3 linked regions of the Homo sapiens genome follow. The protein of the gene in region 1 purifies or fractionates together with the protein of each later gene. This does not show direct contact. Each region holds a gene or a part of one and is shown in the gene's direction. Other genes may lie near its edges.

Region 1 (3,500 bases):
GAGGCGGGGGGAGTCAGCAAAACAGTCCTTTGGGCTCCCCCTCAGTTGGTCATTCTCGGGACTCCATGAGAGTGGCCACCTTGGCCCTGGGTCACTTATATTTACTTGGCAATGCATAGTATGCAAACACCTTTTCTAGTAGTAAATAATTTAAACCTCATGATAACACTATTAGTCCATTTTCATGCTGCTGATAAAGACATACCTGAAACTGGGAAGAAAAAGAAAATTGAACTTACAGTTCCACATGGCTGGGGAGGCCTCAGAATCATGGCAGGAGGCGAAAGGCACTTCTTACATGGTGGCAGCAAGAGAAAATGAGGAACAAGCAAAAGCAGAAACCCATCATAAACCCATCAGGATCTCGGGAGACTTATTCACTATCACGAGAACAGTATGGGGGAAATGGCCCCTGTGATTCAAATTATCTCCCACCAGGTCCCTCCCACAACACGTGGAAATTATGGGAGTACAATTCAAGATGAGATTTTGGTGGGGACACAGAGCCAAACCATATCATTCCACCCCTTGCCCCTCCATATCTCATGTCCTCACATTTCAAAACCAATCATGCCTTCCCAACAGTCCTCAAAGTCTTAACTCATTTCAGCATTAACCCAAAAGTCCACAGTCCAGAGTCTCATCTGAGACAAGGCAAGTCCCTTCTGCCTATGAGCCTGTAAAATAAAAAACAAGCTACTGACTTTCTAGATACAGTGGGGATACAGGCATTGGGTAAATACAGCCATTCCAAATGGGAGAAATTGGCCAAAACAAAGGGGTTACAGGGCCCATGCAAGTCTGAAATCCAGTGGGGCAGTCAAATTTTAAAGCTCCAAAATGATCTCCTTTGACTCCATGTCTCACATCCAGGTTACGCTGATGCAAGAGGTAGGTTCTCATTGTCTTGGGCAGCTCCGCCCCTGTGGCTTTGCAGGGTACAGCAATGCAGCCAGAAGGCAAACCCTTCCCAGCTGCCTTCCGAGGCTGGCATTGAGTATCTGCGGCTTTTTGAGGTGCATAGTGCAAGCTATTGACGGATCTACCATTCTGGGGGTCTGGAGGACGGTGGCCCTCTTCTCACAGCTCTATTAGGCAGTGCCCCAGTAGGGACTTTGTGTGGGGGCTCTGACCCCACATGTCCCTTCTGAACTGCCCTAGCAGAAGTTCTCCATGAGGGCCCCACCCCTGTAGCAGACTTTTTTCTGGGCATCTAGGTGTTTCCATACATCTTCTGAAATCTAGGCGGAGGTTCCCAGACCTTAGTTCTTGACTTCTGTGCAGCCGCAGGCTCAACACCACATGGAAGTTGCCAAGGTATGGGGCTTGCATCCTCTGAAACCATGGGCCAAGCTGTACCTTGCCCCCTTTTAGCAATGGCTGGAGTGGCTGGGATGCAGGGCACCAAGTCCCTAGGCTGCACACAGCATGGGGACCCTGGGCCTGGCCCACGAAACCATTTTTTCCTCCTAGGCCTCTGGGTCTGTGATGGGAGGGGCTGCCCATGAAGACCTATGACATGTCCTGGAGATATTTTCCCCATTGTCTTGGAGATTCTGCTCCTTGTTACATATGAAAATTTTTGCAGCTAGCTTGAATTTCTCCTCAAAAAATGGGTTTTTCTTTTCTTTCTTTTTATTTTTTAATTATACTTTAAGTTCTGGGATACATGTGCAGACCATGCAGGTTTGTTACATAGGTATATACGTGTCATGGTGGTTTGCTGCACCCAACAACCGGTCATCTGCATTAGGTATTTCTCCTAATGCTATCCCTCCCCTAGCCCCCAACCCTGACAGGCCCCGGTGTGTGATGTTTCCTTCCCTGTTTCCATGTGTTCTCATTGTTCAACTCCCACTTATGAGTGAGAACATGCAGTGTTTGATTTTCTGTTCCTGTGTTAGTTTGCTGAGAATGATAGTTTCCAGCTTCATCCATGTCCCTACAAAGGACATGAACTCATCCTTTTTTATGGCTGCATAGTATTCCATGGTGTATATGTGCCACATTTTCTTTATCCAGTCTATCATTGATGGGCATTTGGGTTGGTTCCAAGTCTTTGCTATTGTGAACAGTGCTGCAATAAACATATGTGTGCATGTGTCTTTATAATAGAATGGTTTATAATCCTTTGGGTATATACCCAGTAATGGAATTGCTGGGTCAAATGGTATTTCTGGTTCTAGATCCTTGAGGCATCACCACACTGTCTTCCACAGTGGTTGAACTAATTTATGCTTACACCAACAGTGCAAAAGCATTCCTATTTCTCCACATCCTCTCCCAGCACCTGTTGTTTCCTGACTATTTAATGATTGCCATTCTAACCAATGTGAGATGGTATCTCATTGTGGTTTTGATTTGCAGTTCTCTAATGACCAGTGATGATGAGCTTTTTTTTTATGTGTTTGTTGGCTGCGTAAATGTCTTCTTTTGAGAAGTGTCTGTTCATATCCTTTGCCCACTTTTTGATGAGGTTGTTTGTTTTTTTCTTGTAAATTTGTTTAAGTTCTTTGTAGATTCTGGATATTAGCCCTTTGTCAGATGGGTAGATTGCAAAAATTTTCTCCCATTCTGTAGGTTGCCTGTTCACTCTGATGGTAGTTTCTTTTGCTGTGCAGAAGCTCTTTAGTTTAATTAGATCTCATTTGTCAATTTTGGCTTTTGTTGCCATTGCTTTTGGTGTGTAGTCATGAAGTCTTTGTCCATGCCTATATCCTGAATGGTATTGCCTAGGTTTCCTTCTAGAGTTTTTATGGTTTTAGGTCTTACATTTAAGTCTTTAATCCATCTCGAATTAATTTTTGTATAAGGTGTAAGGAAGGGGTCCAGTTTCAGTTTTCTGCATATGGCTAGTCAGTTTTCACAACATCATTTATTAAATAGGGAATCCTTTCCCCATTTCTTGTTTTTGTCAGGTTTGTCAAAGATCAAATGGTTGTAGATGTGTGGCGCTATTTCTGAGGCCTCTGTTCTGTTCTATTGGCTTATATATCTGTTTTGGTACCAGTACCATGCTGTTTTGGTTACTGTAGCCTTGTAGTATCATTTGAAGTCAGGTAGTATGATGCCTCCAGCTTTGTTCTTTTTGCTTAGGATTGTCTTGGCTATACAGGCTCTTTTTTGGTTCCATATGAAAGTTGAAGTAGTTTTTTCTAATTCTGTGAAGAAAGTCAATGGTAGCTTGATGGGGATAGCATTGAATCTGTAAATTACTTTGGGCAGTATGGTCATTTTCACAATATTGATTCTTCGTATCCATGAGCATGGAATGTTTTTCCATTTGTTTTTGTCCTCTCTTACTTCCTTGAGCAGTGGTTTGTAGTTCCCCTTGAAGAGGTCCTTCACATCCCTTGTAAGTTGGATTCCTAGGTATTTTATTCTCTTTGTAGCAACTGTGAATGGGAGTTCACTCATGCTTTGGCTCTCCGTTTGCCTATTATTGGTGTATAGGAATGCTTATAATTTTTGCACATTGATTTTGTATCCTGAGACTTTGC
Region 2 (4,199 bases), on another chromosome or scaffold:
TGGTCTCAGTATCAAGAAAGGGGGATCTTCTCTTGAGCAATTTTGTTTTTGGTCTTGCATGTGATAGGAATTGAACTTTAGACAAGGCCTCTCTTTAAACTTGACTGCTAGAAATGCAGGAGACAAATTTTGGTCCCACCTGTAGCAAGGGTATTTGACTCTATGAGATGCATTTATTTCAAATGATGTTCATTTTTGGCTCCATCTTGTGTGCCTCATTTTTCATTTCACACACTTCTTTTTGTAGGTTATGTGCTCTTGTAAGCTATCTCGAATTCTGTTTTAAGGACAAGGTAGCATATAAATATAAGGAAATATATAAATGAAACAGAGGAAGGCTTTAAAGTCCAGAACACTATGGCCAGGAAGACAACTATGACTGTGGCTAGAGTTATGGTCTGTGGCCGTGATAATGAGTGTGTTATTAGGGCAGTCCAGCAGTGATTACAGGGAGTCAGACAGACCTCAGTCCAAGTCAGAGGTCTCTCTGCTGTTTATTAGTTGTATGATCTAAGGCATAGCATTCTCTAAACCTTCATTTTCTCATCTTTACAACAGTGATCTCTTTGTATCAGGGAGAGTGGATTAAATGAGGTAATGTATAGAAAGCACTTAGCACAACCGCACTCAATCATTAGCTATTGAGATTATCAGCACTATCACCTGGACAAGCAGCGGATGGGCCGCCCCTCTTGGCCAGGTCTTCTGTGCGCACTGACGTTGTATGAAAGTTGTCCCCACATCTCCTACACCCACCGACGCCAGGCGGCCGCGTCTGGGCCAGATATGGATCACGCCTGTGGAGCGCACCTCCACACAGGCAGCCCTCGTCCAAGGTGCAGGGCGCAGGGCACAGGGCACATGTCTACGGCCCAGTCCTGCAGACGGCTACCTAGAGACCCCAGGGCACAGGTTAAGGCAACTTCACAACTGTCTTTCCGTTCCTTTCCCCTGCCGGACTCCGCGCTCTGATATATACAGGAGAGGCCCTGGAGGGGAGAAGGCGTCCTCACTGCAGTGCTCCGAGCAGCGGCCGCAGGAAGAGGCGTGGAAGCTGCGGGTCGGCTGCGGGAAAGGGGGTCCCATGGGAGCCGCTAGGCGCAGCCCGTTTCCCGAGCTGAGGTGGAGGTCGACGGGCACAGGTGCCCTGCAAGGCGCGGGCGTGGTAGCCGGGAGCCCGCTCCTCTCCAACTCCCCTGAGACTTAACCCTTTGGCCAAGAGAGGTCGAAGGCGGGCAGGGGTGAGAGAACCGCGCGAGGCGCAGGCCGGGGCACCCGCGGAAAGGGGGCAGGTTTCGGGGAAGAGCGGCGGGGCGCCGCACGTTTCCTGCAGCCGCCAGCATCAGCGTGTCAGGTGGTTGCCAGGCGGGTGTGAGCGCGCGCGCGAGGCAGAGGGGGCGCGCTCGCACAAAGTTTGTGCCTGCGGTGCACCTCGGTCGGGCTCGCCGGGCTCGAGGGCTGGCGGGCGCCGGGGCTACGAGGCCCGGGGGGGAGAGAGCCGGCAGGCGGCGGCGGTGGTGGCGGGGGCGATGCGCCGCGCCCGGCCGCGCTAGGTGAGCCGGCACCGGGAGCGCGGGCCGCGGCCATGGGCACCCTGGGCAAGGCGAGAGAGGCTCCGCGGTGAGTAGAGGCGGCCGTGGCCCTCGGGAGCGCCTGTGTCCTTTCTTGGGAAAGAGGCCCCTGCCCGTCGCCCCAACACCCCGAGGGAAGTTGAGGGCGGAGGGGGGCCGGGGTCGGCCGGAGTCCCGGGACACCAGCGCGACGGGCGGACGTGTCCAGAACGCCCGGCGCGCTGCGCCCGGGGTTTCGGGGAGGGAGCTGGGGCTGAGGGGTGGTAGAGGGGCGGCCGCGAGGCCAGAGCTCGTCCGGTGAGATCTGCTAGGGCCGAAGCTCTTCGCGGAGCCGGCGCCCGCCCGCCGACTTCCTCCCCCACATCTCCACGCCCGGCATCGGGACTCCCACTCGCGGACTTTCCGCGCTGCCCGCACCTGCTGGGGCGCTGGGCTCCGGCTGCGCCACCTGGTGGCCCCTCCCGGCCCTGCCCAGAACGGCCGAGGAGCTTGCAGGGAGCCCGCAGAGGTGGCACCCCTCGGTTGCCCCTGCCCCACGGAAGTTTCCAGATCCGTGGGTCAGGGAAACATATCGCCTTCCGTATGGGAAGCTGCACTCCTCTCCCCCTCACTATGATTCTATAGAGGGTCTTGGATAACAGAAGTTGAAGAAAGAGGGACAGTGAGTGAAAGGGCTCTTGGCCAGGCAGCTTTGAGTTTGTAGCCAAAGGACCAGAACTAGGCAACTGCATGAACAAAGGCCTGGCCTCGGCGTAGGGGCTGGACAAGTTGTGCACTTCACAACTCCATTCACATCGACACTGATGGGACTGTGCCTTGCACCACCATACCCAGTAGCGGCAGGAAGCTTGCGATGCTGGACTTCCCGTGCTTATAATCCCAGGAACGAAGGATTCTTGGCCCTGTATGCACGCCCTGCCTCTCCCCATCCAGGTATCCCCTGAGGGTCCACCACTGTACTTTGCACTAGATTCAGAAGGAGGAGTTCAGTACATTAAATTGAGTATTGTAAGGGGAAGAGGACGGGACTGGAAGGAATCCATACTAGAAGTCAAGAGAGTCACCTTCCACTGCAAAGAAAGTTGTGGAAGTTCCAGTTCCCTTGCTCCATTTCATCTCTTACTTTTCTAGGCGGATTTCATAAAAAGCTCAGCCTGAAACTGACCTCCACTGAGATACCTATGCCTGGAGAGGATTTCACCTAAACCAGTTTAGAGTTTTGACGGTCTCCTTCAGCAAACCTATGGGGCTTTGGTTACTTTTAGGCTTGGAAAACACCTTCAAGTTAATTTGTTTCTCTCGGGGTTTTGGTTTTTTCATTTACAGGAAAACATTTGGCTACTGTATTTTTTTAAAAAATATGCCTTTACAGACTCAGAGGCCATTCATTCTATGGATTGTTAAAACACCTTCGACCTGCCTATAATAGAGCATTTTATAAATCCTTGTCTACTCCCATTTCACCAGAAAAGGCAGAACGATTTGAGGATTTTTCACAAGGCAACCAGTTAAGAGACTGTACAGCAAGAAAGCCAGGTTTCCTAGTCTATGGTGCAGATAATCCCCATCTTCTTAGAACTCTGAGGCTGCACTTTGGCTTTTAGTACTTTCTCTTCTCCCTGTTCTCTCATGGCCTAGTCCTCTGAGTCTCTCTGGGCTCCATACTTCCCAGATTGCTTTTGTCACCCTTTCTTCCCTTTTACTACCCTATACTTTACCCTGATCCCTTCTAGTTCTGGTAAAAGCATCAACCTTCAAGAATCCACTTATGAAACAAAGCGGTTTCTCTTACTGGTGACACTAGGAAACTTTACCAGAATTAGAAAACAGGGCAGGATTAGGAGTCTTGAATGGTCAGTGTCACCAACCAAGAAAGAAAATGGAATTTTCCTTGGATCTGTAGCCACCTCCCCTCCACCCCTAGCAGGAAGAGCTCTGTCAGTAGATAGAGCCTCTAGTTGCAGTTGCCTCTTCTCCAAGGTCTAGGGAGAAGTATTGTGGAAGGCCTGAGAGAAGGAGACTTCTACAATGAATGACTTTATTTTTTTAAAACCTTTCCCCTACTCTGCCTTTGGTGGAGGTCTTAATGGTGACAAAGGCAGCAGCTGGGGCAGAAAGCTGAGTAATCCCAGCAGTGGCTATGTAGCCCCAGGTGTAGAGAGTTGTTAGTGCTTCCAGGAAGGGAAGGGCGCCCACCTGGGGCGCACTGCATGGGCCACAAGGGGCTGGCTTCTAGCCTGTCTCTGCAGTGGTGGCCAGGCACGTTGCTCTTCTGATTCTGGACCTCCACACTGTAGAAGGGGGCTTTGGAAAATGACCATAAAGAGTCTGTCCAGCTCTAGGGACCTGAGGACAGTTCTGAGGGCCTGCAAGAGGAATATGGGCTGAGATTCAGCCTTTACATTACCAGTTATGCTTTTGAAGGATTTTGCTTTCATTTTAAATTGAATTGACCTTTTCAGCCTCTCTGTGATTGTCTACTACTAATCCTGATGTTGTGAAATGTGCAGAGTTCCAGGCACAGTCAATATTTATTAAATGAATAAAGCCAGAGAGGTGCTGGGTACAAATCTCAGGTTGATTATATATGAGTTTTATAACCTTGGCTATGTCATTTACCCTTTTTTA
Region 3 (3,500 bases), on another chromosome or scaffold:
AAAAAGCATGAGCCGCACTCTTGAGCTCCCTCCCTATATAGGTGGTCCTGGGAGGCCTGCCCTGGTGTCTGCTCCTGGAAGGCAGACACTGCACGTCTACCTGACTCGCGCTCTGACCCTTTCGCAGGAAAACACGTGGTGCAAGCACAGAAGCTGGCGGACGTGGACAGTGAGCTGGCTGCCATGCTACTGACCCATGCCCGGCAGGGCAAGGGGCCCCAGGACGTCAGCCGCGAGTCGGATGCCACCCGCAGGCGTAAGCTGGAGCGGATGAGGTCTGTGCGCCTGCAGGAGGCCGGGGGAGACTTGGGCCGGCGCGGGACGAGCGTGTTGGTAAGGGTTTGTTCAGCTGTCACTGTCCTGGGATCTCCATGCAGACTGAGTCACTGTGCACATCCTTTCCCTGCCTCCCACATGATTCTCTCTTACCTTCCTCCCAAATCCTGGGGACAGAATATAAGAAAATCGGACTTTTTCAGCCACCGGGGGAAATCTTTAAGTGAGAATTATCTGGAGAGCTTTTAATAAAAGCCAGTTCTTGGGCGTCACCCCTGGAGATTCTGATACTGATTGGTGTGGGCAGGACCCCTGGAGCCTGGGTTTGAAGAAAGCTTTGCAGGTGATTCTGAGGCTCTCCCAGGTCTGGGGACCAGAGCTGTGAACAACTGACATATCCTGGGTTGTCAATGTAATCATTCTGGCTAGAAAAATTCCCCTTTTTGGCTGAAAATCTAAATAGAACTTTTAATATTTTGCTACTAAGAAATGGGAGGTGAGAATGGTTGTACCTCCTGGGTTCATAGAAGTCGGGAACCACAGGGGCCTTGAGAAAGATCTCCTGAGATTCCCCCTTGCATGTAGGTAGGCCGGGGTCTGAACAGAGGTGGCCCTTTTCCTGACAGTAAACTCAGCAGGGCTGCCACTCAGCCTCCCTGCCAGCAAGGCGTTGGTGCTCAAAGGTGGATGCAGACGCCTCGGTCCCTCCCTAGGCTCAGTTCAGTCTGATGGGGCGAGGAAGAGGCATGGTGAGAAGACACGGGGTGAGGAGGCCTGGCCTGATCCCACAGGACTGGTGGGCTCAGTGGTCAGGGAGGAGGGAGGGACTAGAGGGAGGCCAGGGCAGGGCCAGGGCATGACTGGGGCCTCCTCCCAGGCCTCAGGACACCCACCCCACCTCCCTCCCTCCCTTCCTCCCTCCCTCCCAGCTGGCAGGGCTTGAAGCTGTGGCCTCTGGAGGCCCCTAGCCTGGATAACCTTAGCTCTGTCAGCATAAGCTTGGAATTGAGGAGCCACTCTCAGCCCTATCCCTGTTTCTCATCCTAACTCATGTCTGGCCCCATCGTCCAGCACAGCCTGTCAGAGGTTCCACTCCTGAAAAGCTCTGAGGATGAAATTCTGATGGAGGCCCCAAGTGTGAAAGGCCAGCTCCAATCCCCCTGCAAAGGAACAGCCAGAGCCTTGGATGTTGGAAAGTGAATGTCCAAAGTCATTTAAGCCAGAAATCAAATTTTGTCCTCACCTTTTGAGTTAAATCCTGAAAGCACTGAAGTCAGCCCATCTCTCTGACGCCTCAGCCTCCTCTGTGTTAGACAGAAGGTTCCCAGCGCCCGGCCGCAGCGGCTTCTTGGAGTAGCTGCAGGCTGGCTGACTCCCCGGCATGGGGGTGGCCCCTTCCAGGCCTGAGATCTTGCAAGGCAGCCTCTAGTGGGCCTTACTTTTTCTTGTAAGTCCCACAGGAAAAACAGGCCAGTCTCCAACCTGTAGAACCCATGTGTGCTGGCCAAGCCCCTTGAGTCCCTGCGGCATCAGAGCAAGGGGGTGGCTGAGCCTTGCTGAGGCAGCGTGCTGCTTGCCTGGACTCTGACCCGGTGTGACCGAGACTCAGCAGGCCGGGGGCATGTCCTCTCCTGTGGACGCTGGGCCCAGGCAGGGCTCCCAAAGTTGTGTTGGGGACCTGGCTGGTGAGGCCTGTCACCATAGTTTTGAGGCCATTCTTTTCTCTTGTTTGAAACTTCTGATTCTCCACCGTGCGGGGGGCCAGACTCGTGTCTGTGAAGAGTCTCTCAGGAATAGGCAGGGATGCTGTGTGGACCTCCGTGTCAGGGACACAGCCAGCAGATCTCTGTCCAGCACTGCCTGAGATCCATGCCTGGGCGGGGCCGGCCAGTTCCACCCAGACCACATGGTCAAGGAAGGGGGTGGTGGTGGCGATGCTTGTGGAGAAATGTCCTCTTCTGAGATCGCGGGTGGTGGGCAGCCAGCAATAGCCCCTTGTGGAGGAGAGTGTGCCTGGGACCCTGTCCACCCATGTCCTCTTGTCTGCAGGCGCAGCAGAGCGTCCGCACACAGCACTTGCGGGACCTACAGGTCATCGCCGCCTACCGGGAACGCACGAAGGCCGAGAGCATCGCCAGCCTGCTGAGCCTGGCCATCACCACGGAGCACACGCTCCACGCCACGCTGGGGGTCGCCGAGTTCTTTGAGTTTGTGCTTAAGAACCCCCACAACACACAGCACACGGTGACTGTGGAGATCGACAACCCCGAGCTCAGGTGAGGTCTCAGTGGTGCCCGTCCTGCCCCAGCCCAGATCTGTGTCGGGTGCAGCCGGCACCCCTGCTGAGCTGGCTCGAATTCTGCCCGAGAGCCGGGGCGATTTGACTTCTCTCTCCCACTCCTCTGAGCACCGCTCTCGGTGGGTGGGACCGCAGCCTCCTGTGGGTCCTCCTGGGAAGAACTGCCCTGACGCCTGGACACTGCCTCCCCCAGCGTCATCGTGGACAGTCAGGAGTGGAGGGACTTCAAGGGTGCTGCTGGCCTGCACACACCGGTGGAGGAGGACATGTTCCACCTGCGTGGCAGCCTGGCCCCCCAGCTCTACCTGCGCCCCCACGAGACCGCCCACGTCCCCTTCAAGTTCCAGAGCTTCTCTGCAGGGCAGCTGGCCATGGTGCAGGTGCGGGTGTCAGGCACACAGGGAAGTTGCATTTGGCTGATGACGGTGGGAAATTGAGAATGCTTCCAGTCTCCACCAGTGTCCCTCCCTTACCTGTGCAGACAGACTAGCCTTGGGGCTGCCGCCCACTCCCCTTGGTGCTCAACAAGAGCCCTGGCATGTACACTGCAAGTGGCAACCAGCCCCTTCTCTTTTCCAGCCTGATGGGTGTCGAGCTGGACCATCTCCTCCTAATTTTCTTTACTAAGTTGGTTGGAAGGGCTTCTTAAAGCCCAGTGAATCTAATGGATTGACGTTTTCTAGCATCTTCTTTCCAGTTAATGTTGTTTGGTCCCTTCCGACTGCAGCACTGTCTGCTCTATGCAAGATGCAGCTTTGCAGGCATGTGTGCGGGGAGCATGCGTGCAGGGAGCATGTGTGCAGGGAGCGTGCGTGCAGCAGGTATATGTGCAAGAGGTATGTGTGCAGGATGTATGTGAGGTGTGTGTGCAGGGGCGATATGTGAGGTGTGTGTGCAGGAGGCATGTATGCAGGGTGTGTGTGAG

What was found. Proteins that work in one complex are often made in the same cells at the same time.
Region 2: the proteins of CEP164 (region 1) and RASGRP1 purify together in Homo sapiens (affinity purification with mass spectrometry; one large-scale study listed by BioGRID and IntAct). This does not show direct contact.
Region 3: the proteins of CEP164 (region 1) and NPHP4 purify together in Homo sapiens (affinity purification with western blotting; one study listed by BioGRID). This does not show direct contact.

What each region holds. Positions count from the first base shown.
Region 1 is NC_000011.10:117,397,354-117,400,853, forward strand, and holds part of CEP164 (centrosomal protein of 164 kDa), read left to right. Parts: intron 1-3,500. UniProt on the Homo sapiens protein: Plays a role in microtubule organization and/or maintenance for the formation of primary cilia (PC), a microtubule-based structure that protrudes from the surface of epithelial cells. Plays a critical role in G2/M checkpoint and nuclear divisions.
Region 2 is NC_000015.10:38,562,015-38,566,213, reverse strand, and holds the start of RASGRP1 (RAS guanyl-releasing protein 1), read left to right. Parts: upstream 1-1,399; 5' UTR 1,400-1,585; coding exon 1,586-1,620; intron 1,621-4,199. UniProt on the Homo sapiens protein: Functions as a calcium- and diacylglycerol (DAG)-regulated nucleotide exchange factor specifically activating Ras through the exchange of bound GDP for GTP. Activates the Erk/MAP kinase cascade.
Region 3 is NC_000001.11:5,873,926-5,877,425, reverse strand, and holds part of NPHP4 (nephrocystin-4), read left to right. Parts: intron 1-127; coding exon 128-333; intron 334-902; coding exon of another isoform or gene 903-905; exon of another isoform or gene 906-2,311; intron 2,312-2,325; coding exon 2,326-2,552; intron 2,553-2,768; coding exon 2,769-2,955; intron 2,956-3,500. UniProt on the Homo sapiens protein: Involved in the organization of apical junctions; the function is proposed to implicate a NPHP1-4-8 module. Does not seem to be strictly required for ciliogenesis. Required for building functional cilia.